2 linked regions of the Homo sapiens genome follow. The protein of the gene in region 1 purifies or fractionates together with the protein of each later gene. This does not show direct contact. Each region holds a gene or a part of one and is shown on either strand. Other genes may lie near its edges.

The links.
Region 2: the proteins of AASDHPPT (region 1) and POTEI purify together in Homo sapiens (affinity purification with mass spectrometry; 3 studies listed by BioGRID and IntAct, with this or other methods). This does not show direct contact.

The regions. Positions count from the first base shown.
Region 1 is NC_000011.10:106,086,507-106,102,927, forward strand, and holds the end of AASDHPPT (L-aminoadipate-semialdehyde dehydrogenase-phosphopantetheinyl transferase), read left to right. Parts: intron 1-4,050; coding exon 4,051-4,172; intron 4,173-4,809; coding exon 4,810-4,971; intron 4,972-8,076; coding exon 8,077-8,148; intron 8,149-10,236; coding exon 10,237-10,401; 3' UTR 10,402-12,189; downstream 12,190-16,421. UniProt on the Homo sapiens protein: Catalyzes the post-translational modification of target proteins by phosphopantetheine.
Region 2 is NC_000002.12:130,481,929-130,498,349, reverse strand, and holds part of POTEI (POTE ankyrin domain family member I), read left to right. Parts: intron 1-1,727; coding exon 1,728-1,798; intron 1,799-7,609; coding exon 7,610-7,680; intron 7,681-9,070; coding exon 9,071-9,115; intron 9,116-10,151; coding exon 10,152-10,318; intron 10,319-14,470; coding exon of another isoform or gene 14,471-14,536; intron 14,537-16,276; coding exon 16,277-16,347; intron 16,348-16,421.

The sequences.
Region 1 (16,421 bases):
AGGAGACACCCTTCAACCCAGTAGAGTCCATTCTCTGGCCCCCTGCAAAATTTATATCCATCTAACATACAAAGTAAATTCACCCCATCCCAGCATTAGCAATTCTCAGCCCATTCCAGCATTAACTCTAAATCTCATGTAAGTGTTAATATCATCAACCCAAAAAGTGGCAGATCTCATCTCAATCATCTAAATCAGCTATGTGTGAAACTGGAGTATGATCCTTCTTGGGGCAAAATTCCTCTCATCTGTGGACTTGTGAAAGCAGAAAACAAGTCTTCTAAAAATCAGTGGTAGGAGAGGCATAGGATAGACATTCCCATTCCAAAAAGAAGTTCGAAGTAAAAAGGGGTCATTGTTCTCAAACATGTTCCAAACCCAGCAGAGTAAATTCATTAGGTTTCAAAGCCTGAAAATAAAAGGCTTCATGCTCTGTCCTCTTGGTCCTCTTCTTCATTCTCTGGAGTTCTTCCTGAAAGGATAACATTCGCAGCCCAGTAGTTCTAGCTCTATCAGCCTGTTTCTTGCCTCTGTGTGTTAATACCTATATGTGTTGGTAAACAATGTAAGAGCAACTGAAGTTTAGGACTGCCTAAATGGTGAGTTTCAAACCTAGGTTGACGTTATTTCAATCTAGTGCTTTTTCTGCTGTACTCCACAAATTGAGGGCTTAAATACATCCTTTGATAGTAACATGCAAGAAGCTTTGTGCATGTAGTTTGTGAAACCTATATTGGCAGCTCAGATATTTTTGTGTTATTCTAGGTTTTTGTCTGGATAAGTTCCTGGACAAATGAGCTGATAAGCATTACGGTGTACATACTAACTCATATCTTAGAAGACTGTCACTTCTCATAGAAGCAAAATTATATATAATTCTATTATATACAGTTTAGTACTTAGAAAGTGAAACTATTACAATTTCTAATATGATTTATTATCTAAGGCTAAATTTTGGTACTTTGAAGCAAGCACGTAGATGGGCATTGCTTAACTCCCTTCCACTTCCCTCAAAAATGACCAGCCCATTTTCCTAAAGGCTGAGGTAGTTATATGTATATATTTGTGTATACATATTGGTGACCTTGTTTTGGAGAGGGATTAATGTCGTAGGCCCTGAGGTTCTGGATTTTTTTCCGTAGGCCTGAAATAGTTGCTCAAGGCATTGGATCTAAATGATTTTGTTGTATGTTACTACTGTGTTTAAAATAAAACATTAGTTGCTGGGTGGTCTTGATTAGTTAATCATTCCAGAATACAATATCTAACACTGCTCTCCCTAATGATCAAGCTATAAGATGGAAGATCAGGTTTTTCTAAATTTGACTGATGATTCTCTGTGTATGTAATGGTATTATTAGAACTTGCCAACGTATGTGCAGTAATTGTGCTGTCTTCAAATAGTTTAAGGGACAAATTCACTGTTCTTCCTACCGATTTTTCTTTATTCCAGTTTCCTAGGTAAACTGCACTTAATACTTAACACAATATTTGCCCACTGTATATCCACCATAATGCCACAGTGTGGCGCTGCTGTGCTTTGGCCGAATATTTACGAAATCACCTTTTCCTATTGCTGTCAAATTTTTTATTTTGTGGACTAAATAAGATGCTCTAAAGTATATGAAAACGCACTCGTATCGGATATTTTTTGGCTGTACATAATGAGTTATGTGATTGCTTTCTAGTGATTGTGCCAGATTGATTGCCTTTTATGTTAATCAGTTTTTTAATAGCATGCTTATTTAAATTTTTTTCCTTGATTGCCCCATCTTATTTAGTTAAAAATCAGAAGGCTTCTTGGAGGTTATAAAAATAAAATTTGAAGAAAGCAGCAAGCAGAATGACACTATAGATGACAAAATGCGTATCTTTTTAAATGCAGATTTTTTGGACATTAATCTGTTAAAACTACAGTTTCACTCAAAATATATAATGCAGGCTTCCAAACCAAAAATAGTTTATTCCTCCCATTATTGTTACATATGCTGTTTGTGCCAAAATCCATTCAACAAGAAACAGTTTTTGATTTTTGTAGATATAGTGTTCCCAATGTTTAAAATTTCCAGATTTACTTTTGTTACTTCAGAAGCTTTCTGTCTTTACTTTCTTTGAAGTGTTCTTTAAGATGTTACTTATCAAGCCAGTATGTACTATTGATGCATTGAACAAAAAAGTTTTTATTGAGGGGCTTCTATTAATGTTAGTCTCAGGAAGGTGTTGAGGAGTAAACACCAGACAACAAAGGGATCCATGGCCCCAAAAGGGGTAAGAATTTCTTGCCATTGAACTCTTAAGATCACAATTTAATATTTCGGTGCCTAAAAATGAATGAGGATTCTTATTTTGATCCATAGTACCACATATCAGCAACAGGATCGGCAGAAATACTTCCTGATGAACTAAGAGGAGACTATTTTGACTCTTGAAGCGGGAGTACTGGGAGAATCATAACTATTTCATGACAGAACCGATTTTTAATATACTCTACCCTTGAGATGATTGTGGGAAAGGTATTTGGTTACTGCAGGAGAAACTGTAAACTCTCTGTGAAGATAAGGACCATGTCTGTTTTGCTCATCATGCGGTTCGTGGTACCTAGCACTTGTATGCTTTTAGTGAGTGATCATAATGGAATTCTAATTGTTGAATTCTCATAGAGAGAATTAGTGATTAAATGCCAGTGAAGTATTAAGGGGATGTTCAACATCTTCAACATCTTTTTTCTCCACATATTTATTTACATAAGAAATGCCCATAGAGTGTGTGGTATCAGCTATCATAAGAATTGTGTTAATCATTTGAGAATGTCAAATTTTGGAGTTGGTTATTTTAGAAGTGGGAATTGGAGTAAGCCCATATTAACAGAATCCACAAAGGGATTACCTTCAAAAGGTTTTCTGGAAAATAATGTAATAATGAACTAAGGATACAGGGCAGAAGAATATTTAGGAAATAATTTACCATATAATAGTTAACATTCATGTATACACTTAGTAAATGTTTGTGGTTCACTTACCTTGGAACAGGCTCTCTGATAGGCCCATTAGGCTGTAAGTATAAAAGGCAAGAACAGTGATCAATTTACTTTTAATATTAGTTGAATATGTATTTGTGTAAATATTTATACATATTATGCATATTTATATAAAATGAATGATGGTAGAAAGTTTGTGCTTGGTGGTAAAGACACACAAACACATAATTTTAATGTTTTGGAAAATTCAGTACCAGAGGCCTACCATGAATTTTAACATGTATCTTACCCCTTGGTTCTGGGAATCAGATCCTTTGAGTTGTATCTTTTGTCATTTATTTTTAGAATGCTATGTAATATTTTGTTATCTATGAAATAGTGGCACTAAAGATATATTTCAAGTTTTTAAAAATGAGCTTATTTTGCAACTGCAACCACGAAAGAGTAATGAAAATCTTTTTATTTGAATAAGTCATATTAGAAAACAAGTTGGAAAACATTTTGAAGAAGGTATTAATTTTTTAGCCGTGGCAATAATGTAGAATAAAAGAACAGTTTTCAGCTTTCTGCTAATTTTCCAAAAATTGTAATAAAAGAATTATTCCCTTTTTTTCTCTGTTACATAACAAAATAAAACTTTAGAATAATATGGCTCTACTTTAGGAGTATTTTAATTGGGCTTCTGATAAGTATCCTTTTATATAAGAAATTTCCTGTTATTTAAAATTTATAACAGCTTTGGCTGCTAAATTTTATCAAAACTTTTTGGGACATATATTGATACAACCATATGGTTTTCCTGCTTACTTAATAATTTACAGAATATCACCAATTCCTGTTAAACTACTCTTATATTTCTGGGCTAACCACTGCTTGTCATAGTGTGTTTACTCTTTTAATTTTCAACTTGCTTTGACTTGCCGAGATTTTGTTTAGGATTATTTTAAATGTATTCAAAAGTATGGTTGCCCTTTAGATCTTTGGGGGGTGCTGTCTTGAACAGTTTTAGTAATAGAGCAACTTTTTATTTTTTAATAGAACTGCTATTTAATTTTTTATTTCTTAATTGGCAGGTCGTGGTTCAATTCCAGAATTCTTTCATATTATGAAAAGAAAGTTTACCAACAAAGAATGGGAAACAATCAGAAGCTTTAAGGATGAGTGGACTCAGCTGGATATGTTTTATAGGAATTGGGTATAATTCTTTCTAATTTTGAAAGCAAAAGTCTATAATGATTCCATTATCTTCACTTAAAATCAGAGTCCTTGGTTACCCAGTAGTGTCCAAACAGTGCTTGAAGTAAATGGGTGATTGCTTGAGAATTTTATGGTTTTTATGCATATGGTATTACATTATAATGACATTTCATTTTAAGAAAATTTAACCTATATGTAATGCTCAGTTAGAAAGTACTTACTTAAAGCTAAAACAAATCATTACCATTGATAAATAATATTTTCTGTCATAAAGGAACTAATACACATGAGGTCCTATATAACAAACACTGATAATATATACTACATGCCAGAAGACATTACTTCAAGCTCTAAGTTAGTTAATTTAATGTACATAACATCCCTATGAGGAAGGTATTGTTATCATCATCGCAGGTTACATACGAGGGGATACAGGCACGGAGAGCTTAAATGATTTGCCCTAAGATCATATGGATGGTTTGTTTTCATGCTGTAAGGGTTTTTTTTTAAAAAGGTTATAGCTATATAGCCATAATGTAGTATAGCATTGAAACTCCCTATCTTTTGGACCTGTAGATTCTATGAAAAATTTTTGTCCACCAAATTCTAAGAGAAAATGTCTTTCTGTATCTTAGGCACTTAAGGAAAGCTTCATAAAAGCCATTGGTGTTGGACTAGGATTTGAATTGCAGCGGCTTGAATTTGATCTATCTCCATTAAACTTGGATATAGGCCAAGTTTATAAAGAAACACGTTTATTCCTGGATGGAGAGGAAGAAAAAGAATGGGCATTTGAGGTAAGAAATTTGTTAGAATTGTTAAAACTAAGAATTTCTATTTTTTATGCATGTATGTGTGATTAATTTGGGTAAGCTAGTCACTGAATTTGGACGCAACTGAATCCAGTCCTGCTGCTCTGAAAGTGAAATCAGGGCTACTATGAGAGCATGTAACATTTATACTAATACTTGAAAGAAGTTGAAAGATGAGTCATTGTGAGTTCAGTACGGGAAAGGAAAAGAGGCTCTGACAAGGAGCTTTGCATGTATGAACAGCCAAACGCAGCCACTTTGGCTGGGCCATAATGAGGGTATTTAAGAGAGATTCCAGATCAGGCTGGTAGATCCTACAAGGTATTGATCAAGTTAAATATTTTGGTTTCTTACTGTATTTTGTTTCTGTCACTGGCAGTTCCTGGTTGCTAGTGAGAGAAGCCAACACACACAGCCAAAAAACCCCCCAAAACAGTATTATAGGTTACTAGAGTGATTCAGTAACTGTCCCCAGTATTAGCTAGAATTAGGGGATGAAATATTTAGAGCTCTTTTTGTCTCCTAGTTTTGCCTTTCTCTACATTTTGGCTTCAGTTTTCTCCCACCCATGTTTCTCATTCTGTACACCAGCTTTCTCAGCCTCTCTGGTCTGCATGACAGAAAACATGGCTCTTGCATGTAACATACTGTTGCATGTAACAGTTTATAAACAATTTACAGTTTAAAAACCTAAACAAACTGGTAAACTCACTTTCTGTTCCAAGCCCAAAAATCCTAGAGAAGGGATGCCCTGGCCTAGCTTGGGCTAGTTGTTTATCTCCAGACCAGTCATTATACTGTGATTGGTCCTGCTTGTGTCCAGCAAACGGGCTATAGAGCAGTTCTCTGACTTACAAGATCATCTGTTGAGATACTGAATACTAGAAAATAAATGAGATGTTAAGTTTGAGATACCAAACATCTAAGTGAAGATGTCAGATAGGTGAATGGAATGGAGGGCTGGGCTAGAGGAAAAAAATTATAATCATAATGGTTATAAGTATAACCATTATGTCAATGGTAGTTGAAACCATGGATTTGAAGTTGAAACTGTGAGATTACCTAAGGAACAGCTATATATTGAATCTATGAAGAGAGAAGTGGAAATTGAAACCACAAGAAGTTAGAAGTAAGGCCTAGAATAGAGCCCTGAGAATATATATGGTCCCCAGTTTATGATGGTTTAACTTTTTTTGACTTTATGACAGTATGAAAGTGATAATGCATTCAGTAGAATTCATATTTGCAGAACCCACGCAACCATTCCTTTTTTCATTTTCAATACAATATTCAATAAATTACATGAGCTATTCAGCATTTTATTATAAATGAGGCTTTGTGTTAGATGATTTCGCCCACTGTAGGCTGATATAAGTATTCTGAGCACATTTAAGGTAGGCTATGCTATGCTATGATGTTTGGTAGGTTAGGTGTATTAAGTGCATTTTCCATGTAACCATATTTTCTTACAGTGAGTTTATTGGGATATAACATCATCGTGAGTCGTGGAGCATCTATACTAATATTCAAAGGTGAATTTGTGGAGGGGACTGATAAAGAATGACCAAAATGGTATAAGAGAGTAGTGTTGGTATCCAAGGACAGAAAGCATTTTGAAGAAGAGAGCTGGGTCAATAACTGCTAAGGACTAGATGTGGTGGTTCATGCTTGTTATCCCAACACTTTGGGAGGCCAAGACACTGCCTCTACAAAAAATTTAAAAAATGAAAGTTTCAAAACAGTATATCCATTAGTTAACATTCTTTAGTGTCCAACTATCAATTGTTAGTGTACATACACCTCTCATTATACATTAAGCATGATTCTTATTTATTGAAATATTCAATACATATAAGAACTATATCTTATATGCTAAATTTCTGAAAAATTATTTTAGATATTTTTAAATTTGTACATTCCAGTTACTTTTTTCTTGTTTGTTTAAAGAGAAAACAGAACAGGGCTACATAGCAGACTTACTTTGCGATAACTTTGACATAGTAAATCTTCTGATACTTAGTCTTATATTTTTCCTCTTTAAACATATCTTAAATTTATCCTTACTGAATTTCACTTTATGCTGACTTGGGTACCTGAAGGTATGAAGATAGGAAGAAGAAGATAAAAAATGAAAAAGCTCCCTAAGTACTATTTCTAATTGTAGTTTCTTCTGACGTTTTATGGAAGAATGCTTTAGTAAAGTGGTTTTTCAGTGAAAAGTTTGTTCAGCTTTTAAGTGTTTACAATTTTTTCTGGTAACTGCTTCAATATATATTACATTTTAAAGTCCCCTTCCCCTTTGTCTCATATGTAGAGGAAAGTAGAAAATTGCATATTGGTTATGTTTTACCTATAAATTTCCACCATGATTTTTCATACGTGATAGTATGTAGTTTACTAAATGCTTACATACCAATGTTGCAACTTGATTTTTTTTTTTTAACCTTGTACTTTATTATACATACTAACATCACCAGTGAAGGACAGATAGCTGTCAAGTACCTCTAGATAGGGCACATCACCTGTGTAGTATTCTGGTTGAGAATGCATAACCTAATCCACTCATTAAATATCAAACAAACCCCAAATGAGCAATATTTTATTAATAAAAAGCAGATTTAGGGAATTTGTACTTTAAAACGTTAATGTCATAAAAAACAAAAGAAAGGCTAACAAGACATGACAACTGAATGCAATACTTGTCCCTACTTGCCCATTACTGGGCTCCTGTTCTGGAGGAGGGATATGCCACAAAGGATGCTATTGGATTAATTCACAGAATTTGGAATACAGCTAATAAAGTATTGTTTCAATGTTAAACTTACTGACGTTATTAACTGCTGTGGTTATGTAAGAGAATGTGCCTACTAGGAAATACATGTTGAAGTATTTAAGAGTAAAGGGCCAGCACATATGTAACTTCTAAAGTAGTTTAGCGGAGGTGGGGAAATATATATATGCACGCGTGTGAGTGTACGTATATGTATATATATATAGAGAGAGAGAGAATGAGATTTAGAAAATGTAAACAAAGTTACATCTAGGTTTACATATTTTATAATCTATATTTATTTACCTTTTATCTTTCAGGAAAGCAAAATAGATGAGCACCATTTTGTTGCAGTTGCTCTTAGGAAACCCGATGGATCTAGACATCAGGATGTAAGATTTTAGGATTTCTCTTTTTTCTAAATAGCATGAATCAATGTTAAGTTTGCTCTTTATTGATGGAAATAGTCATTTGCCTTATATCAGTTTAGAGAGATTTTTTTAAGATTATAGATATAGTAGTACTCTTTATTAGCAAATATTAAGATCACTAGGGATTTTGTAGAAACATTTTTAAAAAGCAGCTGGGCATGGTGGCTCACACCTGTAATCCCAGCACCTTGGGAGGCTGAGGCAGGCGGATCACCTGAGGTCAGGAGTTCCAGACCAGCCTGACCAACATGGAGAAACCCCATCTCTACTAAAAATACAAAATTAGCCAGGTGTGGTGGCGGGCGCCTGTAATCCCAGCTACTCAGGAGGTCTGAGACAGGAGAATCGCTTGAACCTGGGAGGTGGAGGTTGCAGTGCACCAAGATCGCACCATTGCACTCCAGCCTGGGAAACAAGCGAAACTCCGTCTCAAAAAAAAGAAATGTTACCCGCTTCTTCACATTCGTATACGCTTAAGTATTACAACAAAAAAAAATATGGTAGTACTATCATGCTACTCATATTTCCAATAGACATTCAAGATTATCTTAGTCATCTTAACAGTAGTTTATTTCTTGGTGAATTGGGGTTGTGTTGAATGTAAGAGTACCACGTTGAAGGTTGATGAGTAATGGAATTACCTTGCAAATTGAATCCACTCCTCCTTTTAAAGTAATATCCTGAATTATTCCCAAAGTTACAGTGTCAAACATGTAAGAGACCTTGTGTCATATTGTGGCATAACATCAGTTTCAATTATTCAGCCACAATGTTTTTATACTTTCTTATCCTATTACCTGGTAAGCAAGTGGGGGAAGAACTTAGGGTCAAAGACTCTTAGATTTCATATAATTGTGATTCTGCAGAAGTATTTATTTAAGGAAAACGTATGTTTTAATGAAAACTACATGCATTCCATTATTTTTAGTAAATCAACATGAAAGAATGTAGCATGATCAATATATATGCATCGTTACTTCCACAAAAGTAGCTCAGGCAACACACCAAACCTTTGATAGATTAATCAAAGGATTACGAGTTCTCCATAGATTATCTTCCTTAAAAAGGGATGGCATGTTAAAATTGACACCTGTTATCTGAAGATGTTCTGACCCAGGTTACTCGTCCTTCTGTTTTTAAATCTCAGCTTCACACTCCCTGCAAAAATACCTTTTGTTTTCATAGAGCTTTATAATTGTTGAAACATTTGCATATTCAGTACTTTTCATTTCCCTGGACAGAGCCTGTTTAGGCAACAGTGGCATGTTGGGAAGACTAGAGTACAATTCACAAAATTGGGTTCTAGGCCCACATCTACCATTTAACCTATGTTTTGAGCTTGGACAAATTGTTTGAATTGTTTGCTCTTCCTGAGCCTCAGATTCCCCATCCATAAAATTAAGATAACCGTATCACAACATAGCTATGAGACCAGTCATATAAGTACTGGACCTTGACTTGTTAAAGCGCTATACAAAACCCAAGTACTATTTATACTAGATGTGTAGAATATTAAAGAGGGTCTGCACTGGGTTCAATTGTGAACAAGGGCTCTATCTCAGAGAGTAAGATACAGTTTAAATTTAATATTGAATAAATAATTTCCTAAAGAAGTATACATCTCTGTATAGTTATGGCAGTTTTATCAGACCCACCTTTTAGAGTAGTATTTCACAAAAGTTCACTTTCTCACTCACCTCTATCAAAATAACCTGACTGCTCGTTAAAATTACAGATTTTGATATCCCTTCTAACTGATATGTAGTAAATCACACTTTTTGGATGTGGGGCCCAGTAAATCTACATGTAAAATACCACAGGTTTTTGTTATATAAAAAAGTTCAAGAATCAGGTTTTCTATTTCATTTTTTTTTGATTTGTTGTATTGGCAACACTAATATAAGAAATACAAACAATGTTCTAGGAATCCTATGTTGTCATTTAATACTACTGAAATGTAAGTTGGTCTTACTTATTTTCATGATTATGAAATTGATCATAAGATTAACATGCAATATAACAATAAGGTAATCTGCTTTTGTCTTTTAGGTTCCATCTCAGGATGATTCCAAACCAACCCAGAGGCAATTTACTATTCTCAACTTTAATGATTTAATGTCATCTGCCGTTCCCATGACACCTGAAGATCCTTCATTTTGGGACTGTTTTTGCTTCACAGAAGAAATTCCAATACGAAATGGTACAAAGTCATGATGATTCCCTGAGTAACAAAGGGAAATGAAAACTGTTTGTGATCTTCCGTATTCACTGAAAAATAAATGCTTGTTTAGTATCAAATTTTATTTCACGAAAGTTTTTTTAAAGAACAGAAACTTTTCCAATTAAAAAAAAAAAGCAGACTTCTGGTTCAAGATAGCTCACTGGAATACATGTTTACCTCTTTCTTTCCTAAATTGCATTGAATTGATAGGAAGGATGGCGGAATCTTAAAGTGATACATGCTAACTGTAGAAAAAAATAGAAAATGCACATAAGCAAAAGGAAACATTTAAATGCTATCTTTCAAAGATAACTACTCTTAAAACCTTGAGTATCTTTTCAGACCTTTTTCTTGGCAAATGAATCCATATTGACATATTTGATTTTTTTAAAAACATGGAAACGTACTGTTTTGTAAATTCTTTTTAACTGCACATCTACTGTTCATAAATATACCTCTGTAACATAACTTTTTGTGGTTCTAATGTACTCTGTTGTATAGCTAATACAAGTTAGGATGCTTTTGGCCAGAGGTAACAGTGTCCAAATATAATTGGCCTAAGTAACCTAGGAAATTGTTTGACATAACACAGGGTTCAGGGGTGTCATTAAAGACACACTTTTTTTGCCTTGACCTCAGTTGGTTTGTTTTGCCTTAGGCTATTCCACCTCTCGATCACAAGAGCTGCTGCTATAACTTCCAGTTTTACATCTTTGTAAAATTGTATCTCAAAGGCAGAAAAGGCCATTTCGTCTCTCATTTGTTTTATCCATGAGGAAGATTTTTAACAAAAGCCTCCAGAAGATTTCCCCTCAGTTTCCATTGACTTAGATCAGGTTACAGAGAAAGGCAATGTCTGACATTTTTGGTCTCTGTTAGAAGTAGACTCTGTTGAAAAGAAAGAAGCTAAGCTAGGTGTGAAGAATGGAATTGGAAGCCCACTGCCTTCCCATAAGAAAGGTTTACCATAATTTACTCACTTTTTTCTGTGTTAGACATTTTGATTATCTGCAGTTTATTACTACAAGCAGTGGCAGAGTGAATGTCCTTGTACATTTTGAGTTACATGCTTAATTATGTCCTTGAGAAAGTTTCTAAAAGTGGAATGATTGGTTTGACTGGTTCATAGGGCTTTAATTATACAATTTACCCCTCTAATTAGTACTATATGTATGTGACTTCCCTCCCCCTGCCAGAATACTCCTTGGTCAATTGTAGGTATTCTTTTTGGTTTAATTTTTGCCAATGTAATTAAAAAATGGTATGTCATTTTTAAAATTTGTATTTCTTTCATTACAAATAAGATTGTTATGTCAGTATTGTTATTGGCTTTTCGTATTCCTCTTAACGTGAACCGTCTGTTCATTGTTTTTACCTGTTTTCGTTTTAGCAAGTAGTACTTAATTTAAAGTGTGAACTTAATATATAAGATGCCAGGACCATCATATTGATGACAAAAATCTATTATGTGGTTGTAGTGCATGTCTTGGAGTTAAACTCTTAAGTATCAAGAAGTAAAATAATTTCATTGTTTCTGTTACTAACATTAAAAGTGTGCAAATTGTATAAAATTAGGTACTTCGATTAGTAAAAGAAAAAAATTTGAATGTTTTTTTTTTTTATTTTATTAAGCATGCCCAGTTATGCCAAGCATAGTAAATAAAGGTCAAGTAGCATTTATAATAGAGGAAGTATTGTTATCCCTAGCATGAGTGTAATGGTGATATGAAAAACTTTGTCTTGTCATTATAATAATAAAAAAATGAACATTTATTATGGAATTTCTATGAGCCTGACACTGTGTTGGATTTGTGTTTTTTAGTTTTTAGTTTTTCTATTACTTTTAATCAAAGTTTCATGTGTACACAGCTTTAAAAAATTGGATAGATCTGTAAGATTTTTTTCCTAAGGAAAAAGGCCATTACTCTGACTTCTTCCATTTCCTGTCTCCAGGGCAAGCCCTTTCAACTCTTTTAGATGTTATTTTTTTTGTTATTTATTACCATGTCTCCAAATGACATGCTTATATTGCTTTTACTTGATTTTTTAATTTTAGGCATTGTTTCTTTGATTTTCAAAATAAAGCTTCCCTCTTCTGCTTCCCAGCATTACACATTCCCTTTTTATCCCCTTTTCTCCTCCCAACATAACAATTCAATGTTTACATTGTTGACTGTGATTACACTAAGGATATGTGTACATTATTGAGATTATGTAACTGCTGTATACAGCTGAGTGATGTATTATCCTTACCATATACTAATTTCTTATTTCCTTTAGTTAATTGACTGCATAGATTTCTACCATATGTATGAATATCTTCTCTATATGTTCAAACGTAACAATGATTCCATCAGTTTCTTTCATCTTTTAAAAAATCACTCCTAGAGCAATCTGCTTTGTCCAAGTTGGACTTTGTGCCTTCTATGGCTGGTGTACAGCTGTAATCCTGGGATCTCCTTTACCATGATCCTGGGGATTGTCTCTCCTGTGTTGGATTCCCTGTTCCCCATTTGCTATCTCTCACATCTTAGATTTACTCCATTCATGTGAAATAGCTTTTTGAGAACAAAGTGGGCATAGGAGTTACATTTTTTGAGACTTCTAAGAGGAAGGGACAGTCCTATGCAGAGTGGTATAGGGATCTAGTTGTTTCTTAAACCCATTATCCTATCCCCCTCCACATGAAGCTCTTTGTTAACGCTGTATTCATATCCACTTTTTCCAAGTATTTGATGGCTGCATTTTGCTGAGTTTTGTGCTGGGCTGGCACATGCTGCTTCATACTCATGTCTGCTGGGTCCAGTTATAACATACTGACCAATGTATGGCTTTATTGGTCTCTGTTAATGTGTTTCCTGCATAGGAACTCTCATAAATTTATTTTTAAAATGAATCTGTATATTTGTGTCTCTTCCATTTCAGACTCAGAAATTGAAAAGATTTGGATAAATTTTCAGTTAAATTTTTCACTATCAAAATTAGAATTGTTACCTATTCAGAATCTGAAACTCAAAAACCAGTTAGGTTTGAGTAACTCAACAGCTCCTCACTAGTGGAACTATTACCATCTGAACTTGAGGACCAAATAGATTTATAAATACACATATGCAAATATATCTTTGGTCAAAAATATTCCTGAAAACAACTCCAAGTATCAGTACGTTTAAAGAGGATATGAAGAGAGCTAATGAATGATGGATTTCATTTTTATGGGGGAAATAAATATACCTTCATAGTATTTGTGAATTTGGGATTGGCAAAGGTCTTTGGATGTATTCCCAGTTTATCAGTTAATGTCAGGTAACTGCTGTATATGTCTTATGGTATTTATATTAGAAGCTATTTTGCATCTTAAGCACTCACATATCAGGCTATTTAATTCTTATAACTCTATGGAGTTGTATTGATGGGGAAAGTAAGTTACTGAGTTCTTGAACAACTTACTAAAGGTTATATATTCATTGAATACTGAAGCTTGTTATTTGATCAGAGTTAGGCTCAGATCTTTAGATCCAAAACCTCAGTCAACCACTATACTTAGTGGTGTGCTGGTAAATATTTAACAACCAGCAATCCTGGGGCAGGGAAGAAGAGACCTTTATATGTAGCTTTTGCTTATTCCATGAAATAATGACGTGTAACCAACACCTAGGTTTAGCACATGTTGGCATTTTGTCATATTCGCTTCAGATCTTTTTTCCTCTCATTTCAGGAATAAAACAAATGCAGCTAAAGACTTCCTACCCCCTAGTTACCACCCCTTCATCTTTCCCTTTCCAGGGATAATCTCCAATATTTGTAATTTTATGCTGTTATGCGTTTACTATTTGTATGTATAGTGTTTTGTGATTAAATCTTACATTTCCCTATTAGGATTGAAACATTAGGATGGAATCTCTTTGTGTGCTACTTAGAAGTAACAACAGTGTCAGAATAATTGAGCTCACTTAAGCCCACACTTCTCAAGGAGTATACATACTTAGGAGTAGGCACTGGTGTGTGGTAGTAACTCATCAAAAGATAGCAATTGGTCATCTAGAGGCATTCGTTTTATCTGAAATTTTGGAAAGAATCTTTTCATAATAAAAGTATTACAGACATTGTAAGTAGCATGCAAATTTGCCTGTATTTTAAGTAAAAAGGTGTGGGGCTTCAGAGGAATTTTCCTGCCCACGAGTACATAGTTGCTGTTCTTTTAGGGTCATTTTTGAATGAAAACGAATTTCATTTTGAATGTTTTTCATTTTGAATGAAAAAACATTGGAAAGGAGCCAGCATTAGAAGGGGAAAAAAGTAACATTTGTTGAGTACTTAAGCAGTAGAGCCCAAATCTTGGTGTGGTATACCCCTCTGCAGGTCACCTTTAGGGGACTGACCGTGTTGCAGGTGTAAGACCACTTTTTTACTATCCTAGAAGCCTTCAGCAATAGGCAAGTGAAATCCCATAAATTTGATGCTCCTGATAGTTCCATGAGTGTTTTCGGTTGTTACTTAGCACCCTTTAAAGCTCTTCATGCTTTTTCCAGTGTTGCATGAGCAAGAAGCCTGCTAAACTAGTTGTTCTTTTCCCCTCTAAATCCACTATCTTTCACCCTTCACTACCGCAGGAAGCTGACTTCTATGTACCTTGTTGGCCAGGCTGTCTTTTCCTTGATCGGGTTTTGCAAATAGAGGTGGGGGAGGGTATTAGCAGAGGACTAGGTAGAAAGGGAAATAGGATGATTATCCACTTGCCTTCCTGCCCTGCAGTGGCTTGGAAATAGCTGTGTTCCTCAGCATCACAGCTTCTGACATAGCCTTCTCCATATATACATCTCATGGGTTCAGGAACAACTTTTCCCTGCCTTTTCATTTTAGAAGTAGAAAGATCTTGCTCTTGCTTAGCCTAAGCTGCTGCACCATCTCCATAGATTTTTGTTATTCTTGCCTACACCCTCTTTGATCATTACTTTTGGTTGTGCCATCTGTTTCCTGCTACAACCCTGACTAATACAGTAATTTGTACCATGAGTAGTCCTGGGAAAGTGGAATTCTGGAATTGGATTGCTCACATATTTGATGTATATACAAATAACTTCCTTGTCAGGGAAAATGGATGCTTATCATTGGTGGCAAGTGGTGATGTCACAATTGCTTACATCATTACTAGTAATGTCATGGAGTCATGGAATACAAGTGGAGTACAGTGTTGGAAGATCAAGGGGCTGTGGCACATAGTCACTATGGTCATGGTAGAGATTACAGAGATCGTTAGGAGGACTGGCTCTTTTGAATGTCTAGAGCATATACACAGGGGAAAGGACAAATTGAAAGCAAAGGGAAAAATTGGGAAAAAAACAAAGCATCACAAAATCTATGGCAACTCTAGGGGAATATCTTGTATTTTGTAGATATAGCTAAGACTCAAACCTAGAGCTTTTATTGTAAGGGCTGCTGAGTTGTAATACCAATTACTGGCCAGTACTGGGTCTCACATGCTAAGGTAAGGGCATTGGTATGGAAGAAGTGGGGCCTTCAGAAATGAGATGGGAACATTTGGATCGCCACAGGAAAGGCTGAGAAGCTTAAGCCTTTTACATTTCCCTGAAACTTTCCTACTGGCAGAGGCAGCCCCATTTGTCTGAGGGGGAAGTCTTACCTCCTGATACAGTTTCAGATGTCATGTTGAATTCTAATCCCCAATGTTGGAAGTGGGGCCTGGTGGGAGGTGACTGAATCATGGGGGCAGATTTCTAATGAATGGTTTATCACCATCATCTTGGTGCTGTCTTTGTGATAGTGAGTTCTCGTGAGACCTGGTTGTTGTAAAGCAGGTGGCACCTCCCCCTCACTCTCTCACTTGCTTCTGCTTTCTGCCTACTCCCCCTTCACTTTCCTCCATGAGTGTAAGCTTCCTGAGGCCTCCCTAGAAGCTAGGCAGATGCCAGCATCATGCTCCGTGTAAAGCCTGCAGAACCATAAGCCAATTAAACTTTTTTCTTTATAAATTGCGCAGTCTCAAGTGTTTCTT
Region 2 (16,421 bases), on another chromosome or scaffold:
CCACATATTCAGAACCTAATGTGGAACCCACATCTTAGCCAGGAATTAGCTGAGACCTTCATGGTAAGAGATCCTTTGAGGCTGTTGTTGGTCTTTTCTCTAGCAGATATTAGGTGGGCTTGTTCTAAAGGGTGAGAGGGGTTCAAATAATGTGGCAGAAAGAGATCAGTGTTTGTTTCTTCTTCTTTGCTACCAGATCTGTACTGTGAGGCACCTTTATATCCTGTATAGAACCTTGGGCAGTAGAAAGTCCCATATGAACCTTCCCCTGAGCAGTGGCTCCCAGCTGTGGTTGGCCCCTTGAGTGATCTGATTTACATGATAATGAAAATCGTGGAAGCTACTTCCATCTCTAGCTCAAGATTTTAAAATATTTTCAAACTCTAGCTCACAGGAAGCCATTGAAGAGAATTCTCAGAATCTCAAGTAGGTTAGTTGGACTTCACAGAGCCAAGCCTTGTCCATGACGCATCACTAATCATGTGTAAAAGTAGGGCTTTGTGCTTGCTTCGGCGGCACATATCCTAAAATTGGAACAATACGGGGAAAGTTAGCGTGGCTTCTGCATAAGGAGGCAGCACAGATCTTTGAAGCATTCCATATTTTGTGCAGTCACTGGAAGGTCATTTGACTATTTGCTGACTAGCTCTGAGGAAATAGTGTGAATCAAAGCAAAATGGGTGCCACCCAAATATTGAAATTGTGATTTCTGCTGCAAAAATAGTCATGTAAGATGGTCTATGAGATGACTTAGACCTGAATAACATGTTCGGTGCAAAATATATTGTTAGTATGTATGTCGAAAATTACAGAATGTCAGCTTGCTACTTCTCCGTGGAAACTAAAATAAATAAAAGTAGACTTTTGGTCTCCCATGTCAGCTGGAATTGAACATCAATATAAAGCATTATCCTAACAGACATCTACTGGCTGAGAGTTTGAGTCTGTAGAGAAGGATCGTTGGTCCAAGTCAGGTCTTAACATCCATTGGTTTTTCTGCCCTTGGTGTGATTGATCAACTCCGTAATAGTGGACAATCACATTATCTACTTTAATGAGATATTTATGAATAAATTTAGTTATAAACTATGACATAGTTGAGATGCCCTGAATTATAAGCCATAAAGAGTAGGACAACTAAGAAGCAAAATTAGGACTTAATAACATTTTCTGAAAACTACAACATTTGCATATTAGAACCTATGAACAAAATACGCATTGGGTTTTATTTGGGATTCCAAGATAATTTTAGTCATAAAGTTTAGGAACAGATTATTCCATTGCTTTACTATTTCTCTGAGCATTTAAAAAATGTTATCTCGTTAAATCTTTATAACAACCTAGTGAAATAAGGCAGCAAAGTCCTCACTTTGTTGAAGAAGACATTGAGCCTAAGAGAAGCAAGTTGCCCAAGAACAAATAGCTGTTCATTATGGAGCTAGGACTTATGCAGAGTTGGGACACTTTCTATTATGTCATGCTAATGCTAGCTAATTTACTGGGTCACAGTGCCCTTGATTTATGAGTATTTCACCTTACATTTTTTTCGTCTTTAATTAGAAGCTTAAAGAGAAGTTTGTAGAATGTACTCATAAGTGGATGGGATAATACTATTAAGTTCTGATATTCTGATATTGTTTGAAATACTCTTAATAATTCTACATTTGGTAAGTTTTTTTATATCAGTATTAAAATAGTAATTTGGTTTATTACATTTTTATACATAGAATTTGCCAGTTACTTTCTGACTACAAAGAAAAACAGATGCTAAAAATCTCTTCTGAAAACAGCAATCCAGGTAAGACTTGTGATAGTGAATTACTTTAGTCAGTTGTCCCCAACCTTTTTGACACCAGGGACCGGTTTTGTGGAAGACAATTTTTCCATGGGCTGGGGGAAGGTGGGGATGGTTTCAGGATTATTCAATCATGTTACATTTATTGTGCTACTTTATATTATTATCACATTGTAATATATAATGAAATAATTACACAACTTACCATAATGTAGAATCCGTGGAAGCTCTGAACTCATTTTTCTGCAACTGGATGGTCTCATCTGGGGGCAAAGTGAGACAGTGACAGATCATCAGGCATTAGATTCTCATACGAAGCACACAACCTAGATCCCTCAGATGGGCAGTTCACAACAGGTTCATGCTCCAATGAGTATCTAATGCTATCACTGATCTGACTGGAGGCAGAGTACAGGCGGTAATATGAGCCATAAGGAGTGGCTGTAAATACAGATGAAGCTTCCCTGGCTTGCCTGCTGCTCACCTCCTCCTGTGTGGTGTGGTTCATAATAGTCCATGGACTGGTATGAGTGTGTGGCCTGGGAGTTGAGGACCCCTGCTCTGCGTGGTCCTACCATAGATAAAAAAGTAAAAGTAAGGAATTTTTGATCACAAAAGAACACTGAAGCACAAGTCATGTTACATATGCTTGTCCCAATAAGGTCTCACTATTATTGACTTCATTCCTCCTCATTTGAAGTTGGAAAGAGATATATTTACTTTGTTGGAACAAGATGTGTTCTTCTACCTGCTGGTTAATTGTCATCATAACAGTAATTTTGTTAGAACAAGATGCTCTGCTACCATTTGCCAAAAGATTGTCATAATAAATATACAAATTGCCCAACTCTAGGCTCAGCAGATTATAATAAAAGCAGAAAAACGTTTCACACTAACAAAAATGCTAGTATGCTACCTGGTTGTGGACACCTAATACATTATATAGTCCAAACTGTATGAGGACACCTTTAATTTAGCCATCTATTTATCAAAGAGCTTTTGTAAGTTAGGTTTTATAAGTCGCAGGAGACAAAGATGGAATAGATGTAGTTTTGATCTTTAAGGTGCTCATAATAGAGCTGTCTCCATTTCATTTCTGTGCTTTTTCAACAGAATTTACAAAGAAAACATTGCTATTTATGTTTTCACTTGTCCACTTAACATATAACTATCAAATGTCTTTTAGATGGTAACCATTTTTCTAATGCTATAGACCACAGACAATTAAAAATACAGACAGGAGCTTTTTCTTATCATTGCCATTTTCATTATTTTACTACTTTATTCAGTGCTTACTGTGTGCTAGATGCCCACTGGAAGCTTATAATTATGATTTATTATATATTGATTATGTGCCAGACATATGAGGAATGAAAGTTTTGGGAAAAAGTAGGTATGATTTAAGGTAAGCATGCAGAGAGAGAAGAATTTTTCTAGGTAAAGAAGCAGAAGAAGAATGTTTGGCAGAAGGAACATGCAGCGAGGTCGTGTGTTTGCCAGAAGGAACATCTAATGAGATTGCCTGTTTGGGAGGAAGAGCAGCAAGTGCAAAAGACAAGATGCTTGAGTGAACATGGCAGGGTTTCTGAGCAGTTCACTTTTGCTAGTACCAAAAGTGTGAGATACCAGAGGTTGGGAACGAGGTGAATACTTAGCTAAGGCAAGTTTATGATATACTTTTTAATACTATAGAGATGAGTAGGTCTTATCCTGTGTGCCATGGGAAATTTACCGGGTAGAATGCTTTGGACTGCAAATACTAGATGAACAGTGGCTAAAACAGTAAGAACCAGAGTTGTTTTGGTTGTTCATTGATATCCTAGGATCCCACTTTTCCCTCTTTCAGCTGTGCTGTTGGCAGTGTTTTATTCACGTCTCCTTTCATGGTTGGCTAATCCGCAGCAGCTCCAAACATCTTGTTCTCACAACACAACATCGCAAGGGCTGCTTTTCTTCACATGTGTCTTTTAAACAGGGAGAAAACTTAGAAGCATGCAAGGGGCTTCCTGTAACATTTCATTGGCTGGGTCACACCACATGCTCATTCCCAAACCAGGCACTGGGAAGGTAAATACCTGATTAGCTTAGAATAAACATTTCTGTTTCTGAGGCTGAGGAGGGGGATTGGGATAATAAATATCCCAATAGACTTGGATTTCTTCTTCAAGAAAGAATAAGGAATGGCTACTGATAGGGAGCCAACAATGTGTGCTGCAGGGGCTCATTGGAGAAATTTGAGCAGGGGAGTCACAAGATTAAATTTGAGTATTAAGGCATTCTGGTTATGGTGTAAAACGGGTTAGCAAGCTTTTTCTGTAAATGGCCAGGTGGGCAATATTTTAGACTATGTGGTCTCTGTCATATCTACTTAACCCTGCTGTTGTCTGCTGTTGTAGTGTGAAAGCCACCATGATTATATGTAAGCAAACAGGCATGACTGAGCTCCTATAAAACTTTATTTACAAAACCATAATGCAGATTGGATTTGGCCTGTGGCCTATAGTTTGCTGGGATTGATGGAAGGTTCTTTACCATGTAAAGAAACCAGGAGACAAAGGAAGTTTTTGCAGTAGTCAGCTATAGTTTCCTTGTCATACATCCTTGGAGTAGCATCAATGTATTACAAGGTTTTCACCCGTCCTTAGTGAAATACATAAAGTTAGGAATCTCAACTACTTGTTTTAATATGTTGGCCTTTGTTTTTTTGGTGATATGCTTTTTTCATTTGTTTTGCTTAATTTTTTTTCATGTAAGAAATAACATTAATAGTTGGCAGGCTTTTTTTTTAAATAAAAGCCATTTTGTAAATGTTTGTGTTCCCAGTGGCAGTGGGAATATAAAGCAGAGGCAGAAGAGAGGTATCGTCAATATGATTTAGTAATAATTGAATGAGAAAGGCTTGGGGGACAGAGAGAAATGTCAGATAATTTCCAGGTTTCCAGGTTGTACAGTAGTATTTAACCTGGATGTGAGGAAGAAGGAGGAAATTTTCTGGTGAATACTGAAGAGCAAAGAGCAGCAGGTCAGCAGGAATGACTAATGTTTTTCTATGCACGTTTAATGGAATATTCATGTAGGATATTTTGAGTAGGTAATTGGATAACCAGCATTTATAACTCGCATCCTACTAGTTTGACTCTCACTAATAAGACTTGTCAAAGATCCAAGAATCTGAAAGTTGATGATAAATGTCCATGTGTATCACCATCAATGATCAAAAGTTAGCATCCACAGACATAGAATGGGACAGATGAACTTAATGGATAAAGATGAATATCGGAGTTGTTCCTTTTAGGGAATGATACTCTCCATGACCTGTGTGAGTCACAGCTGCCAGAAAAGAGCGAGCAAGGAGCATATGAAGGCAGCACAGCAAATTCGGTCCTAGAGTGCCCTGCTTGACTTCATGTCATAGTTCTGACTTCTAAAAAATCATTTTCTGCAAAATACACTTTGATTTTTTCCCCGCTTGCAGCCTGCAACCAAACAGAATCCCTTTAGCAGGGCATTTTTGTGTTCTTCCTTTAAACAAAGCAATATATAAATAACAAAATGAAAAAAGAGAAAGAGTGTTTTTTGTATAGGCTAGTATTTAACATAAACTTGAGAGTGAGTACCAGGAGTTAGAATTTATGGACTGGGTAGGAAGACTAGATAGAAATCTAAAGATTGCTGACTCAAACGCAATGTGGTTTCTTTGCTTTATTGTCACAGCTCTGAATTCACAATTATTAGTTAAATTCATAGGCACTATAACTTTAGAAATCACCTTCCCAAACCAAGTATTAAGTGATTTATTATAATTTCTCTGACTTCTTATAGAATTGACTTTCCAAGTGTTCATGAGAATTATTGAGAATTTGCTACATAGTATCATCTCAGCTGTGTCCACATGAGCTATCTGTCACCTTGTCTTAATGAATAATGGTTCACTAGGAATATTGGTTTTGGCATTTAAAGTGATCTATATCTAAATGCAGATAGGATCAGGGACCTCTCTTGAACATTAATGTCCAGGCATCTTAAAATTACACATAAGGCTTTCATAATCTGACTTCTGCCCCACTCTCCATCTTTAGGCCTTTTCCCTGTGTGCCCTTTCTCTGGCATTACTGAGCTGCTGGCAATGCCCTACTCACTCATCCTTCTATTGTAGGCAAATATTTTCACTCTTTCAGGCCTCGCTCCCGCTCTTGCTGCTGTGTGGCATGCCGTCACCCTTTCCTGCCCTCTACCCCTTTTAATCTGGCTAGTCTCAATATTTAAGTCTCTGCTTGGGCATGTTTTCTAGAAAAGCCATCCCTGACATGCTTTATTTTAATTGTTTTTAAACCCTAATGCCTAGCATGTATTTAGCAGGACTCAATAAGAAATTTCTGAGTAAAATGTGAGTAAGATGATGTGCAAGACTGTCCTCTGCAGTCTTGGAGCAGACGGGACAGACATGTGGAGGAATAATGTAGAGTTCAGGTGGTAAAGATGCAGTAGAAAAATCAGTGAAGTACTAAGGCAGCCTCAAGGAAGGAGGTACCTGTTTATCTGGGGAAAGACATGCAGAATCAAGGAAGACGTTCTCATAGCATTGTTTTAAAAGATAAAAATAAGGATAAGTGTGGTGGCTCACACCTCTAATCCCAGCATTTTGGGAGGCTGGAGCAGGCAGATCACAAGGTCAAAAGATCAGGACCATCATGGCCAATGGTGAAACCCCGTCTCTACTAAAAACACGAAAATTAGCAGGGCATGATGGTGCATGCCTGTAATCCCAGCTTCTCCGGAGACTGAGACAGGAGAATCGCTTGAACCAGGGAGTGTCAGAGGTTGCAGTGAGCTGAGATTGCGCCACTGCACTCCAGCCTGGTGACAGAGCAAGACCCTGGCTCAAAAAAAAAAAAAGAAAGAAAAATGAAAATAAATATGTCTGAATCGTGGAGGGAAACATTTTAGATATTGGGAAGAGATTGTACACTAATAAAGGTGTCAGTAGTAATTTTTGAAATCATTTGTAAGGTACTATTGTTGCAGAAAACAGGAGGCAGGAGAGACCAAGTGGGTGAAACAGGAGGATTTCATTTAGGTTCGCACCAGCTCAGCGGATTTGCATCCGAAAGCTGAGCCCTGAACAAAGACAGGGCTTGGCTTATGTAGGCAAGCTTACAGAAGCAGAACAAAGGCAGTTAATCATATAGTGACAGTTTTGCAACCTCAGCGTAGCTTATGACCTTGCAGCTGCATTGAAGGACAACAGGAACTTGCAAATAATATGCATTTGTAAAAACAGCTCTGAGTGAATGCTGAGGGGAAGGGGAGACAGTAAAGGATTTTGTTTTCTTAACCTTGCTGTGGGATGTCTGGAGCCCATACCTGTGGGCTCTGGCTTCTCAGGCAGGGTCACCATGACCTTTCCTGGGCCCTGCTTGTTACTATCCTTAGAGTCAGACTAGCTAAGTGCGGGAAAACTTGTTTCTCTTTAAAACTAAATTTCCTTTTCTTTACATTTACTGCTTCACTATTAGGAAGTGGAGAACAACATACTGTGTTACCTTATATGTTTCTACTGTATTTTAAAGTTGTGTTTCTGGTGGTTTTGTTCATTTATGTTGGGTGGATGAATTTGTGAGTGAATGACATCAGGTGTCTCCCCAAGTGGTTTGTTGAAGTTTGGGAGAATTATTTCCTAAATAACTATTTCATGAAAAACTAAACACTCAATTTATGAAATAAAATGTTGTCTTAAATCTATTTTTATAAAGGCAATAGTTTTTAACTGTTCTAAGTGGTTCATTTTAACTGAATATATGGATTTCTCAACAGAACAAGACTTAAAGCTGACATCAGAGGAAGAGTCACAAAGGTTCAAAGGCAGTGAAAATAGCCAGCCAGAGGCATGGGAAATTTTAAATTTAAATTTTTGATTTAATGTTGTTTTCTTTGCTTTAATAATATTAGATAGTCCAAATGAAATTACCTTTCAGACTAGGTTTTGAGAATCAATAGATTTTTTAAAGAATTTTTTAATAGATTGTTAAAATTTATTTTAATAAATTCAGTAATCTCATTAACAGAAGAATGGATTCTAATTTAACATTTGATATTTAACTTAAAAAACATAACCACTATAAAATTTAAAATACTCTTATTTTATAATATTTTTATTTAAAATATTCTCATCTGCCTTTTTGATTAGCTTATAGCTAATCTTTCCTTTTGGAATAGAGGCAAAAACAAATTTCAGAACTTTGTTCTTTTATTTTTACAACACCCGAACATGATGAAGAAGGTACATCAATTATTGGATTATGTTATTAAGCAATAGAATTATGAACAATGTAACTCTGATGGTCCCTGAGCTGGATTCATGGTTAAGGAGTAATCATGGCCAGTGATTGAAAATCTGCAGTTTTATATTGTCAGTCACTGATACCAAGGTTAAAAATATATTCTGCCTTATGGTCTCTCATTGACCTCAGCGTTTCTGTTCAGGGAGGGAACCAGGTCATAAAAGCAACACAGCTGCCTATTACAAGAATCATATCTTGCAGAATGGAACCTTTGGTGTTAGTGCACAAACACAATAACATTCTAATTTATTTCAGTTGCAGAAAATTAGTACATATTATTAAAAAAATCTTTATCCACTGTAATTAGTACACATTAGAATATATTAGAACTGGACTTAAGCAGATAATCTGGATACATAACACTATCATATGACAGTATATAATCTCAATTAAAATTTGAGAAATTGCATCTCTTTCTGTTTGGTGTTGATTTCGGCTCCTAATAATTTAAATGGTGCCTACAATCCAGTTAGGAATCTTTTAGAAAAGCACTTCAGTGCACTGTAGGGGCTCACTAGTTAGGGTTTCATGAGGTAAACTCTTTTCAAGTGAGGAAGATTTTGGAACACTACAAATCATCTGCTGATTCATTTTTGGTAGATTTAACACATAACAAGTTTAGTCCAAACAAATGGTGACCAAGTTAAGTTTGCTGGTTCACGTTTTTTTTCTTCGTTGGGCTAAGGTGAATTATTTTTCACATGTTAGTCAGAAGCCAGTAATGTGGCAGTAGCTAAACATAGATTAAAAAGTTAATTCTTAATTTTAATTATTATTTATTTAACAGTTAAATTTTAATTTTAATTATTTTCTAATTTTTCATCGTCCATACTTCATTAGTTAAGAATAAAATTTTTTTAAAACATGCGCTCCAAAAGAGGAGACATCACAGAAACACAACAAGCAAATTAACCTTCTGTTTTTGCCTCTGCAGAAAATGTCTCAAGAACCAGAAATAAATAAGGATGGTGATAGAGAGGTATACCTTCATATTCAAATGTTTCTGTTGAATTAGATTTTTACATTATGTTGTTTAACAAAATGTAGTAAGTGTAGGCATACATGATCCTATCATGTAAGTAGCATAAATCATGAGTGAAAAAGTTAATATTTAACTCAGAAAGAATTCTGTACTTTGAGTTTTCAAGAGATACAAAGCCTAGAGATATTCTTTGATTATTATGGAACAATCCTGAATGGTGCCATAAAATGCTAGGTAATGCCACTTTAGGAGCTTTGGACCAATCATTTTATCTTTCTTGGTTTTAGTCTGATTATCAATAGATAATGTGGCTAAAGAAGATAGCTTCTTATTCTGTGTATCTTCCAGCTAGAAAATTGTATGGCTATTCAATGTGAAATTTGGGGAGCATCTCATTTTCTGGAATTCCATGCTTGCACGTCAGCAGTTTCACTCTGCTTCTTGTGTTGTGGCAAACTTTGGCTCCCATTTTCAGTGAGCACCATCATGTTTTTGATATCCCAGCAACCAAATGAAAAAAGAATGCTCAAAGGCAGTGGGGTAGAAGAATATCTTAGCGCAGAAAAGGGCAAACTTCCTTTCTGTTCCTGAAGCCGCACAGTGTGTCATCCTCTAAATCTGACTGTTTAATGTAAAATCTAGGTGGTAAAGACAGAAGACACATTTTGCATCTTTGTCTTTTTATTTGCGTGTTCCCATGAGTCAAATGGGGTAAATACATACATAAGATTCTGAAGAGTGATTGAGAATAAAAGCATAAAATGAAGGAGGGCCCTTTTTGAATTTTGGAAAATTCTGTTTCATTCATTGAAACAGAAATGAAGCAAACTTTACAAAAATTTCTGTGATATATTAATGATATGATAATTACATCTTAAAGTTATATGGTAATATTTCTATATATATGATCAAATTTAAGTGTGAAATATTTTTAATGACTAAAATAATGACAAACTGAGTCAATTGATAGAATCAATTAAAAAGGTTCTTTTTATTCAATAAAGTGATAACTATCCTTAATATCCCACTCAAGGTTGAAGAAGAAATGAAGAAGCATGAAAGTAATAATGTGGGATTACTAGAAAACCTGAGTAATGGTGTCACTGCTGGCAATGGTGATGATGGATTAATTCCTCAAAGGAAGAGCAGAACACCTGAAAATCAGCAATTTCCTGACAACGAAAGTGAAGAGTATCACAGGTAAGCCTATGGCAACATTGAACAGGAGATAACTATGTGCTGTCAAACTAACCCTAGTTTGGGCTAATATTCATGATGAACAAATTTTATAGTTTTACTAGGATATTCAGCCTTGCCCGTTAATCAGAAAAATGAAAATCAGCGAACAATGAGTTACCATTTTTCCAGGCATTAATTTATTTGAAAAATAACCAGTATTGGCAAATGTGAGGGAAAAGGCATTTTCTTTTCTTTTTAGTGAACTTTTCTTTTAGTTTCAGGGGTACATGTGCAGGGTTATTATATAGGTAAAGTGTATCATGGAGATTTGGACTGCAGATTATTTCATCAGCCACATAATAAGCAAAACACCAAAAGTTAGTTTTTTGGTCGTCTCCCTCCCGTGACGCTCCACCTTCAAGTAGACCCTGGTGCCTGTTATTCTCCTCTTTGTGTCCATGAGTTCTCATTATTTAGTTCCCACTAATGAGTAAGAATATGTGGCATTTGATCTTCTGTTCCTGCATTAGTTTGCTTAGGATAATGGCCTCCAGCTCCATCTGTGTTGCTGCAAAAGAAATGGTTTCATTGTAAAAGACATTTCATACACTGCTGGTAAATACATTTTGAACATTAATTTAGTAGCATATTCACAAACACATGTATAACAATAAGGATATATAATATATGTAAAGGATATTTGTGTAGATGTTACATATATACTTATGTATAAGGACATTTATTACAGCATTATTATATCAAAAAGATGGATCCTTATCAATAGGAAATTATCATTATCAAAAGTAAATCATTACCAATAGGAAATAGCTCAATTTTCATACCCAGAAATTAATGTAGTATGCAACCATTTTTTACAAGTGAGGTTAGATCTAGAGTATACTGATTATTTCACAATTAAAGTGTATTTAAAGCATCAGTGATGACATCTTAAGAGTTCTTGTTAAAATTCTTGTAATATTTCCTGTGTTGCAAATGGAAGCTACATGCTATATTGATGCTGTACCTTGTTAGCAACAAGATTGCTAGTTATTAAATTTTTATGTCAGTGCCTGAGTGCTGAAATATTGGACCCTCAATCTGAATATTGCCAAGGGATTGTACATGGGGATCTGTATTTAATATAAACGTTTCAGTATATTGGGTAAAACTTTTATTAAAATGTATCAAAGGATCTTTCATCTGCTAAACCAGGAGTTGGCCAGCTTTTTCTGCAAAGAGCCAGTTAGTAAATATTTTAGGCTTTGTGGACTATATAAATTAATTTATTTTTGAGACAGGGTCTCACTCTGTTTCCCAGGCTGGAGTGCAGTTGTGTGATCATGGCTCACTGCAGTCTTGACTTTCTGAGCTCTAGTGATCCTCCCACCTCAGCCTCTCTACTAGTTGGGACCATAGGTGTGCAACATCACACCCAGCTAATTGACACTGTGGACTGTAAAGTGAATAAGCATGGCTGTGTTCCAAAATACTTGACTTACAAAAACAGGCAGTGGGCTGGATTTGGCCCAAGGTGCTAGTTTGCTGACCCTTGTGCTAAAAGGAAGGTGCTGCAAGTGAAGTGACTCTTATTTGTAAAAGTGCCCTGCGTGTGTGAAATTATCCTTCCTTTGAGAAAAGGATATATTTCAGTATTCACCTCACCATATTTTTCCACAGTGACTTCATATAATTTTAAAAATTTCATTTATAAAATAAGATTATTGTCTGCATTTCTCCCACTTTATTCCTGTTAATAGAACCCAGTATTTTGCTGTGATCAATTACTTTGTATATTTGATGAGTATCAGTTGTCCTAGAATTGGCTGATTTTATCAAGCAAGAAATACTCTCCTTGAAACTTTTAGTATTTCTTGGTCTTTATGCATAAGCATGAATAAAATGATAATCAGCTTATGTGTAATCTAGAAATGTTCAAGGCGACTTTTAGTTCTATAGTTTTAAGAATTTAACACCTCAGTCTGGCATTTTTAATGCCACATGTGTATAATTTTTATAACCTTTAAAATATATTATTGTTATATAAAATTTGAAAACTACACCTGTTATATAAAACTTGAAACTATTTGTCTATTACTTTTCCATGACTGTGGAAGAAAATTACAACATTCTCAGTCATGACTCCTAAGCATGATGTCCTTAAAAGAACTGTCCACACTCACGAACTCAAATTTTCTTTTCATTCACTCTTAATCTCACACCGGCGTCTTCAATTTCAGCAGTCCTCCAACATTGTTTTTCCTCAAGATTATCACAATTTTTTTTCTGTAAATTATGCATTTTTTCTTACACCTCATTTTATTTAATCTGTCAGCAATATTTGAGCCAGTGGAGGGCGTCTCCTCCCTAACGGCGTCTTCACTTGGCTTTCAGGACCTCACTCCCTCAAGCTTTTCCTCCTGCATTTCTAGTCCATTCATCATGGTCTGTTTTGCTTGCTCCTCCTCATCTTTCTCCTTTTGGACATTGTTGTTTCCCAGGGCTCAGTCCTCAATCTTCTTTCTCCTGACTTTTTCTTTTTCTTTTTTTGAGACGGAGTTTGACTCTGTCCCCCAGGCTGGAGTTCAGTGGTGTGATCTCAGCTCACTACAACTTCTGCCTCTTGGGTTTAAGTGATTCTCCTGCCTCAGCCTCCTGAGTAGCTGGCATTACAGGTGTGTGCCACCATGCCTGGCTAATTTTTGTATTTTTAGTAGAGACAGCATTTCCCCATGTTGGCCAGCCTGGTCTCAAACTCCTGATCTCAGGTGATCTGTCTGCCTTGGCCTCACAAAGTGTTGGGATTACAGGTGTGAGCCACTGCACCCGGCCCCTCGTGACTTTTTCTATTGTGTATATGCTAGTGATTTCCAAATGTATGTCTCCAGCTCAGATCTCTCTCCTTAATTCCAGATTTCTATATCAGCCTGCCTACTTGACGTCTCTATTTGGTTAGTTATTGGGTATCACACACGTGTCAGATCCAAAATTGGGCTACTGATGTCCTTCCTGAAATCTACACCTCATGTAGTCTTTCCTACTTTGGTTAAGGGCAACTTTTCCAATTGCTCTGCCAAAAATGTCAGTGTCATTCTTGACTCATCTGTCCCTCTGACACCTCATATCTAATCTTTCAGTAAATCTTGTCAGGTCTACCTGAAGAATATGTCCAGAAGCCAGTCATATCTTGTACATCTGAGCCACTGTCATCTGCAGTCTAGATGAGTGTCATAGACTGGGAATTGATCGTCCTGGCTTTTAAAAACTTCCCTTTTCATCAATTCTTAACTCAGTGGATGTATTTAAAACATAAGTCAAATTGTGTCATTCCTCTGCCCCAGCACTTCTGATTGCCTCCTTTTCACTCTGAGTATGGGTCAAAGTTCCTCCTGATTATCTCCCTTGCTCTGCTTCAGCCACACTGAATTCTTGCCATCCCGTATCTACCCCTAGTGCTTAAAGACTCCAGACACACCTCTGTGCTTGGCAGTTCCCTGTGTCTGGGATGCTTTTTCCCCAGATATCCTCCTAGCTTACTCTTTCCATTCCTTCAGTTCTTTATTTAAAACCACCTTTCTAAGAAGAAGAAAAGGGTAAAAAGAAACACATTAAGGAACATCCACTTTCTGAGGAAGAGCCGTGTACTACCCAGACACATCATGCTTAAGATGCAATTGGGAGCATACAAGGAATGCTCTCTAAGGTAATCAAGGCAAGGTTCAATGAAACAAAGTGATTTATCATCTCTAACTTCAAACCTATTTGTATCTTGACATCAGCGCTGTTAACCTTATGTCATCGTTTCTTAGAGTCTTTGATATACAAATAAAAGGTTTTTTGTATTAGAAAAAAAAAACCCTTTCTCAGCAGGGACTCTTCTGGCCATCTCAACTTTCCCACCACCCTCCCCATCAAACACATAAACATTTCATTTTCCTGCTTTAGTTTTTCTCCTCTAACATACCGTATATTTTGCCTTATCTGTCTGTTGTTATTGTGTGTTTTTCTCACTGTCATGAATAGGGTTTTTATTTTTCACTACCATATCTTCACTGCTTAGAAAAAGGCTTAGCATATTGGATGTAGCTACCTAATAAATACTTGTTAAATAAGTGAATGGAGTTTATCCTGTGTATATTGTTTGATTGATTCTCACTTTAAAAATGTTTGCCGTAGGTCGGGCATGGTGGCTCACACCTGTAATCACAGCACTTTGGGAGGCCGAGGCAGGCGGATCACGAGGTCAGGAGATCGAGACCAGTGAAACCCCATCTCTACTAAAAATACAAAAAAATTAACCGGGTGTGGTGGCATGCGCCTGTAGTCCCAGCTGCTATGGAGGCTGAGGCAGGAGAATGGCATGAACCCAGGAGGCGGAGCTTGCAGTGAGCCGAGATCGTTGCACTGCACTCCAGCCTGGGTGACAGAGCAAGACTCCGTCTCAAAAAAAAAAAAACAAGTTTGACATGGTTCTTTCTAACAGTTTTGCCTGGTAATTGTCTGCATTTTTAAAATCGTTTTGGCTCTTTATAATAAGCTACATTGTTTATATTAATTTTTTTATTTAGGGAGAAAAGCCCAATATTGTGGTTATTCACTATTTATGCTTTAATAGTAATCATAATTGTAATTATGGTAAACTGAGTCAGAGGAATTGCAAACTTTACTATTTTATTTTATTTTATTTTATTTTTTTGAGATGGAGTCTCACTGTATCGCCCAGGCTGGAGTGCAGTGGCGCGATCTCAGTTCATTGCAACGTGGGTTCATGCATTTCTCCTGCCTCAGCCTCCCAAGGAGCTGGCCCTTGCATAAGGCGGCCACACAAATTTTTGAAGCATTCTATATTTTGCGCAGTCACTGGAAGGTCATTTGACTGTTTGCTGAGTAGCTTTAAGGAAATGGTGTGAATCAAAGCAGAATGGGTGCCACAAAAACATTGAAATTGTGATTTGCGCAATAAAAATAGTCATGTAAGGTGGTCTGTGAGATGACACCAGAGCCAAATAACATGTGGGGTGTTGTGTACAAAATATATTGTTAGTATGTATGTTAAAAATTAGAGAATGCCAACTTGCAACTTCTTCGTGGAACCTAAAAAAAAAAAAATAAAAGTAGGGTTTTCATCTCCCATGTCAGCTGGAGATGAACATGTATATAAAGCATCATCGTAACAAACATCTGGCTGAGAGTTTGAGTCTGTAGAGAAGGATCATTGGTCCAAGTCAGGTCTTAACATCCATTGGTTTTTCTGCCCTTGGCGTGATTGATCAACTCCGTAATAGTGGACAATCACATTATCTACTTTAATGAGATATTTATGAAAAAATTTAGTTACAAACTATGACATAGTTGAGATGCCCTGAATTAGAAGCCATAAAGAGTAGGACAACTAAGAAGCAAAATTAGGACTTAATAACGTTTCCTGAAAACTACAACATTTGCATATTAGAACCTATGAACAAAATTCGCACTGGGTTTTATTTGGGATTCCAAGATAATTTCAGTCATAAAGTTTAGGAACAAATTATTCCATTGTTTTACTATTTCTTTGAGCATTTAAAAAAATGTTATCTTGTTAAATCATTATAACAACCTAGTAAAATAAGGCAGCGTAGTCCTCACTTTGTAGAAGAAGACATTAAGCCTAAGAGAAGCAGCTTGTTCAAGAGCAAATAGCTGTTCATTATGGAGCTAGGACTTATTTAGAGTTGGGACACTTTCTATTATGTCAGGCTAATGCAAGTTAATTTACTGGGTCACAGTGCCCTCGATTTATGAGTATTTCATCTTACTTTTTTTTCTTCTTTAATTAGAAGCTTCATGAGAAGTTTGTAGAACGTACGCATAAGTGGATGGGATAATACTGTTAAGTTCTGATATTCTGATATTGTTTGAAATACTCTAAGAATTTTACATTTGGTAAGTTTCCAGATCAGTATTTTAAAACAGTAATTTTATTTGTTATATTTTTATACATAGAATTTGCGAATTAGTTTCTGACTACAAAGAAAAACAGATGCCAAAATACTCTTCTGAAAACAGCAACCCAGGTAAGACTTGTGATAGTGAATTACTTTAGGTCAGTTGTCCACAATCTTTTTGACACCAGGGACCGGTTTTGTGG